Regions from separate parts of the Homo sapiens genome. Here all the other regions are linked to region 3. Evidence: fine-mapped expression QTL. A gene starts in region 3. Each other region holds a variant in brackets. All regions are shown on one strand. Distances are from middle to middle.

Region 1 (2,763 bases), 990 kb after region 3:
GCACGGATGTCCATGTTTTCAATTCCCTGGAATCTTTATTTAAAGTGTTTATTTATTTCCCTCTCTTCACAATGGAAAAGAGGATGGAGTGGGGGGAGTATGTGAAGTTCACTGGAAGGTCTTAGCAGATGGGTGCCACCTGGGCCTTTAAGTGAAACTTGCTCTTCAGTCACTCTGGGATCTCTTAGTGCAGGCACCAAGCCCTAAAAACTCCAGAAGCCTCTCTTTCCACATCATTAAAATGGGAGGCTGGGGGCAGAATTATTTTGGTGAGGTTACCAGCACGGTAAACGATTAAGGATTAAACGATTGAGGATTAAACGATGCAATATGGAAACTCTCCCAGCCTGATGCAATCCTGAAAATATTTCTTTTCTTTTTCTTTTCCTTTTTTTTTTTTTTTTTTTTTTTTTTTTTGAGATGGAGTCTTGCTCTGTCAACCAGGCTGGAGTGCAGTGGCGTGATCTCAGCTCACTGCAACCTCTACCTCCCAGGTTCAAGCAATTCTCCTGCCTCAGCCTCCCGAGTAGCTGGGATTACAAGCATGCGCCACCACGCCCTGCTAATTTTTTTGTATTTTTAGTAGAGACGGAGTTTCACCATATTGGCCAGGGTGGTCTCGAACTCCTGACCTTGTGATCTGCCCACCTCAGCCTCCCAAAGTGCTGGGATTGTAGGCGTGAGCCACTGCGCCCAGCCTCTCCCTTGCTTTTTGAGGTCAGAAAGTAAGAGATAACTGAGCTGGGCTTTTAATGCTGCCTTTGTTTGTTTGTTTGTTTGTTTGTTTGTTTTGCCATTTAGTGATAATATCCTTCAGTTTCCCTTTCCTGCACTTAGCTTTAAAAATCCCAGCCTGTCACACCAGGGCTGGGGGTTGTGGGGAGCAGACAAACAATCAAACAAGTTCAATCTCTTAAACCAAATTATAAAATGAGAAAGATCACAGATGTGCGGGAGGAAAGGGTTTGATGTAGCTCAGTCATTCCTCTCCTTCCACTTCTGATGACTAATTTAGAAGTTACGCATAACATCTCACTGCCCCTTTCACAAGAAATCATGATATCTATTTTATCTAAATCTTGGTTCTGGCTAAAGCAGTTCTTCCGCTAAGCAACTAGTTTGTTTTCATTTAAATGAAACTGAAGAATCTTATAGCTGATCCTGTTTCCCAGCACTGGTGTAGTGAAATAGATTTTAAAAACAGACAGATCTGGAACCCAGAGCAGCCTCTTTCTTCATCCACTGAAAAATTTTAAAAACAACTTGATTGAGGTGTAATTTACCTATCATAAAATTCACCCATTCTAAGTGAATCATACAATTCAGTTATCGTTAGTAAATGTACAGAGTTGTATAAACATCATCAGAATCCAAGTTTAGAACATTTCTGTTTTTTCCAAAAGATCCCTTCCTGTCCCCC[C/A]CTCCACTACCAGGCAACCACTAATCTATTCTCTGTCTCTATAAATTTGCCAATTCTGGACGTTTCATATAAATGGAATCATTCAATGTGTTGCCTTTTGTGTCTGGCTTCATTCACCTAGCATGATGTTTTTCCAGTTCACCCATGGTGTAGCTTGGAACAGTACTGTGTTTCTTTTTATTGACAAATGGACCACATTTTAATCAAAATCCATTCACCAGTTGATGAACATTTGGTTTTTTTCCACTTTTTGGTGGTTATGAATAATGCTATGAGTATCTGCATACAAGTTTTTCTGTGGTCACACGATTAGTTCTCTTGGGTATATATCTAGGTGTGGAATCACTGAGTCATATGGTAACTATGTTTAACCATTTGAAGAACTATCAGATTGCTTTTCACAGTAGCTGCACCATTTGACATTTCCACCAGCAGTGTTTCAGAGTTCTTCTTTCTCCACATCTTCACCAACACTTGTTATTGTCCTTCTTTTTAAATTATAGTCATCCTAGTCCATGTGAAGTGGTATCTCACTGTGGTTTTGATTTTCATTTCCCTAATGACTAATGATGTTGAACATCCTTTCATGTGCTTTTGAGCCATTCCTCTATCTTATTTGGTGAAATGTCTATATAAATCCTTTGCCTATTTATAAATTGGGTTATTTATCTTCTTATGATTGAGTTGGAAGTGTTCTTTGTGTATTTTGGATACATCAGATATATGATATATCAGATATATGACCTATAAATATTTTCTTCCATTCCATAGCTTTTCATTTTCTTAGTGGTACCTCTTGAAACCCAAAAGTTTCTCATCTTGATGAAGTCCAATTTAGCAGTTTTTAAAAATTCCTTATGCCTTTGGTGCTGTGTCTCAGAAATCTTTGCCTAACTCAAGGTCACAAAAATTTAGCTCATACATTTAGGACTATCATCAATTATGAGTAATTTTTGTGTATGATATAAGGGAAAGGTCTAAATTCATCCTTCTGCTGGTAGATCTCGGTTGTTCCAGCATATGAATTATTGCATTTTGTCTGCTGCCTTCTTCTATCCCCTCCTCTATTTTAGCATTCCCAGAGGTGAGCAACACTCCTCCTCTTGCCCCCAGTGGCAGCCCCCCACCCCCACTTAACCCCACTTATAAAATCTGGAGATTTTGCATGAAATCTTTTAGTTTTTAAATGATGTCAATTATTCAATTGTTTCATTTGTCTTCTTGATACATCAGATATATGATATATCAGATATGTGAGACCAACAGACTGTCTTGATGGCACAACTCCAATTCCAGTGTTCCAGAAGAGAGAACTGGGCTGACTGGTTTGTTCTGGGTCAGAG
Region 2 (2,763 bases), 940 kb after region 3:
AGGCTCAGGAACCTGCACTTTCACTCATTGAGGACTAAACTGCTTCTCACTGATGAAAACATCCTTCGAGTTCTGGCTCATAAGTCACCTCCTCTGGGAAGCCTTCCCTGAATTTTCAAAGTAGTAAGTCACTCCCCTGACCTCCCACAGCACTTTGTCTACCCATTAAATGTGGCACTGCAGGGTAATTATTTATTTGGTCCTTTTGAGCAAGAACTGTGTCTCACCTGCCTCTGTATACCCAGCACTCTCAGTGTTGAGGATGAAGTTGGCGCTCCATGAATGCTTATTGAGCAACTAGAGGACTAAACAGACACTCCACTTTGGCCCCTGTCAAGATTGCCTTGTGGTCTGGCCTTTAGACCAAGAAGACCTGAGTTGTAACTTTGCCACTTTCTCGGGTGAGCTGTGTCTGAGTCTTCATTTGCCTATCTGGAAAATGGGGATAATGACAGTCCCTCCCTCCTGGGGGAGCTCCGATGACACAGGCCAATAGTGGTGATGGTGTTTGTAAACCCTGCGGTGTCGTGTTGGTGCACATGTGTGGAGGAGGTGGGGTGGGGCCTGTTATTCCTGTCCTGGAATGTTGGCACTCAGACGTTGTTTACGGTAACTTCTGGGCTCTGTGCCTGACTTCCCAGGGCTCCGGCACTTGCTGGGGTAGATGGCAGTTCCACGTATGAGTATGTGATGCCTCCCAGCAATGGCATCACCAGATTTGTTAGGTGTTCTGTGGAAGCCCCGACCTCCAGCCCCCTCCAACCCCCTTCCAGATTTCCTGCTCTGCCGAGAATTCCCTTGCTCCTCCTGCCCACCTTGCAGAGCCTCCAGTGGGTTCCTGGGCCCCTCCCAAGCAAGATCGAGCCCTGTTTTAAGCCCTTTCAATGCTGGGCTCTGAGTCAGGTTTGGCATCCGGACAACTCCACCTTTTCCTGTTTCTAGGGACCTACCTGTAGGAGTTCTATACCTCTGGGATGTGGGCAGCCTGACCTCTAGATGTATTGAGCAGCTGTCATAAAGCTATGCCGCTTGCTCCCTGCTAAATTGCAGCCAAAGTGATGGGCATTATCTGCTTCAGAACAGGAGAGAGCTGTTCTGCCATCATGCCAGTGCCCTTATTCATCATCACCACAGCTTTTACCATTGCACCTTTGCCCAGTATCAGATGAGTGGATCCTTGCAGCATGGCATAGATATCATTATTATTATAACCATTTTGCAGAAGTGAAAACTGAGGCCCCAAGAGGTGAGCTAACTAACCCAAGAGTAATCTCCCCTTGAGCCACTCACTGTTGCATTTACTCACTGAATAAATGAAGAGGAAGGAAGAGCTGACTTTAATGCCTGGAGCTTCTCCCTGCCTTGGAGGTCGGGATCTGAGACCACTCTGATTCCTCTCACAGGGCTAAGGGACCATCATCACATAGTTATGGGTGTTCATGTAGCACAGGCTGGGGGACCTAATTTCTAGTCTGTTTTGTGCCACAGGTTGTTTTGGGCTAACACTTTTAGGTCTGAGAGTGCCTGGATCTGCTCTAGGTAATCAGGCAGACAGGCAGCACAGAAGACAGTTCAGAAACAGAC[C/T]CAAATGCAGATAGGAATTTAGTATGTATGAAAGGTGGCATTACAAATCACTGGAGAAAAGATAGATTATTCAATAAATGGGCTTGGAGCAATTGAAGAACCACCTGGAAAATATTAAGTTGGATTGCAGCACACTCCTTTCTCCAGAATTAATTCCAGATGGATCCAAAATTTAAATTAAAAAAGATAAAAGTATGCAAGTACTGGAAGGTATGACGTTCTTAAAATAATCTCAGGGTTATACAATTCCAGACCTTCCCTTTCCCAAGCCTCAGAGGAGGCTGGGGCCAGAGGGGGTCCTCTGGCCTGGAATAACCCAACTTCAGGATCGTAAGTGTGAGCCCTACTTTCCACTACTGACAAAGATATCTTTTTCTCTGCTGAACAGAATTACTAATACTTAAGCAAAGAGTTTCAGTCTCCTGTGACACAAACACAGATATTTGTTAAAAGGGTATAGGAGGCTCCTAAGAAACTGGGATGGGCCATTTGGAAAGTCAGCTGAAAATCTGTCCGTAATTTTTTTTTCTTTTAACTACAAAGGTTATATAATAGAATTACAAAACATTTTGAAGAAGAGAAAAATAATATCTAAAAATATAATAATATATAAAAATAATAAAACACATGACCTTGCACAGACCACTCAACGTTACTGAGCCCATTCTGTAAAATGGGGGCAAAACCTACCCTGCTCACCCAGAGGGTTTCTGGGAAGGTCAGAAGAGATAACTGATGCAAATATACTTAGTTTCTAAGTCCTGCACATGCTGTAGCAAAGTCAGGTATGCATTATTTCATATTTGGCAAACTTATGCATGCAGGAACAGGAATGAGGACATTAAGTCTAATGATACTCCTGTCTTCAGGAAGCATCAATCCTCAATCCCAACCCTCAATCCCAACTCCTACGATGATTTGTATTTTTGTGTTGTTGTAAACATGTAAACGTGGTGTACATTCTGTTTTCTGTCCTGCTCTTCTTTCTTAAGGTGTTTTTCCACGTTGCTGAAGTCTCTGTAGCCTCCAGTTGTAATGGTTGCATAAGGTTACATCAACTGCTTTTGCCTCATTGACTTAACATTTCCCAATTGCTAAACATTTCAATTTCATCTCATTTTTCCTGTTATTAAAATGTGTGATGCAAAGCTTTCCTGTGTATAACATAGAAAATAATTC
Region 3 (2,763 bases):
TGAGCCACCACACCTGGCCTTACATGTACTTTTTTAATGGTTGAGGTGGAGCCATCTTTCTTATATTTAGGAGCGTTTCATGATTTGTTTTTGTTCATTGCTTCCTTTGCCTTTTTTTTTTTTTTTCCCTGAGACAGGGGTCTCACTTTGTCTCCCTGGCTGGAGTGCAGTGGCAGTAATCTTGGCTCACTGGACCCTCGACTTCCCAGGCTCAAGGGATCCTCCCACCTCAGCCTCCTGAGTAGCTGGGACTACAGGCGCCCACCACCACACCAGGCTAATTTTTGTGTTTCACTAGAGACAGGATTTCACCATGTTGCCCACGCTGGTCTCGAACTCTTTGCCTCAAGAGATCCACCCACCTCGGCCTCCCAAAGTGCTGGGATTACAGACGTGTGCCACTGGACCCAGCCTCCTTTGCCAGTCTTAATACTAAGTTATTTTATTATTTTGGGAGAATTGCTACATCGAATATCAGCCCTTTGTCATATGTTTCGAGTATTTTTCTGAATTTGTACCTTGTCTTTGATTTTTTTTCTTTTTTGAGACAGGGTCTTGCTCTGTCCTCCAGGCTGGAGTGCAGTGGCGGGATCACAGCTCACTGCAGCCTCGACCTCCCGGCCTCAAGTGATCCTCCCACCTCAGCCTGAGTAGCTGGCATCACGCCCAGCTAATTTTATTTTTTGTAGAGATGGGGGTCGCACCATGCTGGCCAGGCTGGTCTCTAACTCCCGAGCTCAAGCCATCCTCCCGCCTCGGTCTTCCAAAGTGCTGAGATTGCAGGCGTGAGACACCGTGCCCAGCCGTCTTTAATATTTTTCACCAGGCGGATAGTTCACATTTTTGTGTAGTCTTTTTTTTTTTTTTTTTGGTGCCTTCTAATTCTAATTCTTCCCATTTCTGGGTGTGTACTTAGTCTCTCTGAGCCACAGTTTTCTGCTCTATAAAGTGGGGTGATAATGCTCAGTACACGGTTTGCTTTGGCTCGATGAGAAATCCAGGTCTGAAAGCTTCAGGTACAGCGGCCGGCGCTGAGGAAAACAGCGTTAAGTGAGGCGCGTCAGCGGACACCACCTGCCTGCACATCTGGCTGGCCTCAACTTCCCGCTGTTCGAGCCCACGTGAGTGGCTCCGCCCCATCTGGCTTCTGACCAATGGACGAGCTTCCTAAGGCGTACCGTCCCGACTCCAAGGCGCCTGGCTTTGAGGCGGGCTGCGTCTTGCTCGGAGTCCCGCCCCTTGCCGGGTCGAGCAATGGGCGCCTTCCGTTTGGCGCAGGCCCCGCCCCTGTCGCTCTCCGGCCTGCGGGCCGCAGGGCTCGTTCCGGAGGGCGGGCGCCACGGAGGCCGGAGTGGTCGCAGTTCGGGCGGAGGCCGGGCCAGGCGGGGCTGTAGGGCTGGGGCAGGCGGCGGGCTGCCCGGCGGGACAGCTGCGGCAGCCGGCGGGGGGCGTCCTGAGTTGGCGGTCGAGGGCGCTGCCAGCTCCCGAGGGGCCGCTCGGGCCCCTTCCGGCCCGGGTCTGGTTGGGCCGCAGGAGCAGGGCGGGCTGCGGCGCCCGGGTCTGGCCCTGGCCTACGGGCTAAGCGCCCGGCCCCGGGGCCGCGGATCCGGCAGCCATGTGTGGATCTTGAAGCGCCATGTGGTCTTCTGAAGCGCTTGACAGTTCTAAAGGGCTTTATATTGCAAACTGATCAAAGCGCTTCGTAGCCCCGGAAGCGCTTAGGCATCTCCGAAGTAGCGCTGGGCAAAGTGAAGGCTTCCTGATCTCAGAAGCACGTTGTGGGCTTGGAAACCGACGGCAGCCTTTAGTCAATTTTGGATCGCTTTGACTTCTCCAACACGGTTTGGCATCTCTGAAACCTTGAGAACTGTGATGGGCAGTGGAAAGAAGAGGGAAAGGTCAGTGAGGCTAGCCCCTGGCTCTGCCCTTATGTCTTGCCGTCCTCCTGGGCCCGGGGTGGCGGGAATCTGAGGTGGGGTCGCCAGGAAGGGTGGTGTTGGAATCCAGGCCCCCTGTACCTTGCAGGTGCCCATGGCGTCCGAGCGGGGCAAGGTCAAGCACAACTGGAGCAGCACGTCGGAAGGGTGTCCCCGCAAGCGCAGCTGCCTCCGGGAGCCCTGTGATGTGGCCCCCTCCAGCCGGCCAGCTCAGAGGTCTGCGTCGCGTTCTGGAGGGCCCAGCAGCCCCAAGCGCCTGAAAGCCCAGAAGGAGGACGATGTGGCTTGCTCGCGGAGGTTATCCTGGGGCTCATCCCGCCGCAGAAATAACTCCTCCTCCTCCTTCTCCCCACATTTCTTGGGCCCTGGTGTGGGCGGGGCCGCCTCCAAAGGCTGCCTGATTCGGAACACTCGGGGGTTCCTGTCTTCAGGGGGATCCCCTCTGCGTCCTGCCAACGCCTCTTTGGAAGAAATGGCTTCTCTAGAGGAGGAAGCCTGCAGCCTTAAGGTAGGTGGCTGCCACGCTTTGCAATCGGTGAAGCCCCTTCCACATGGCTTGAGAGGTTGGGGATGGGAATTTTGGTGGAAGGAGACTACAAAACATTACATCCTTGAAGGTCTGGAAGGTCTTTCTAGAAGTCCACTCCCCCCAAACTCGAAGACCTAGCAGTCTTCCAGGCGCGTGGCCTGAAGTTAAGTAGAGAGGTAATTTTCAAACTCGGCAGCACTTTGGAACTACTTGGAAAGCTTTAAAATACTTGGGCCTGCCTCCTACTCCAGAGAAACTGATTTATTGGGCTGAGGTGTGGTCTGGGCTTCCAGATTT

What was found.
Region 1: its variant is fine-mapped to the expression of TATDN2 in aorta (GTEx, PIP 0.92).
Region 2: its variant is fine-mapped to the expression of TATDN2 in sun-exposed skin (GTEx, PIP 0.99).

The regions. Positions count from the first base shown.
Region 1 is chr3:11,237,277-11,240,039 of GRCh38, forward strand. All of the region lies in intron 1 of HRH1 (histamine receptor H1), which reads left to right. Among named protein-coding and RNA genes, the nearest start is that of ATG7, 34 kb to the right of the region's middle. The variant C/A (reference allele first, on the strand shown) is at 1,421.
Region 2 is chr3:11,185,247-11,188,009 of GRCh38, forward strand. The region is part of intron 1 of HRH1 (histamine receptor H1); the gene reads left to right. Among named protein-coding and RNA genes, the nearest start is that of HRH1, 32 kb to the left of the region's middle. The variant C/T (reference allele first, on the strand shown) is at 1,585.
Region 3 is chr3:10,247,170-10,249,932 of GRCh38, forward strand. TATDN2 (TatD DNase domain containing 2) reads left to right here and starts at 1,290. Exons shown (of 8, transcript NM_014760.4): 1 at 1,290-1,898; 2 at 2,026-2,445. The coding sequence starts at 2,032. RefSeq lists a silencer at 1,176-1,605 and an enhancer at 1,858-2,726.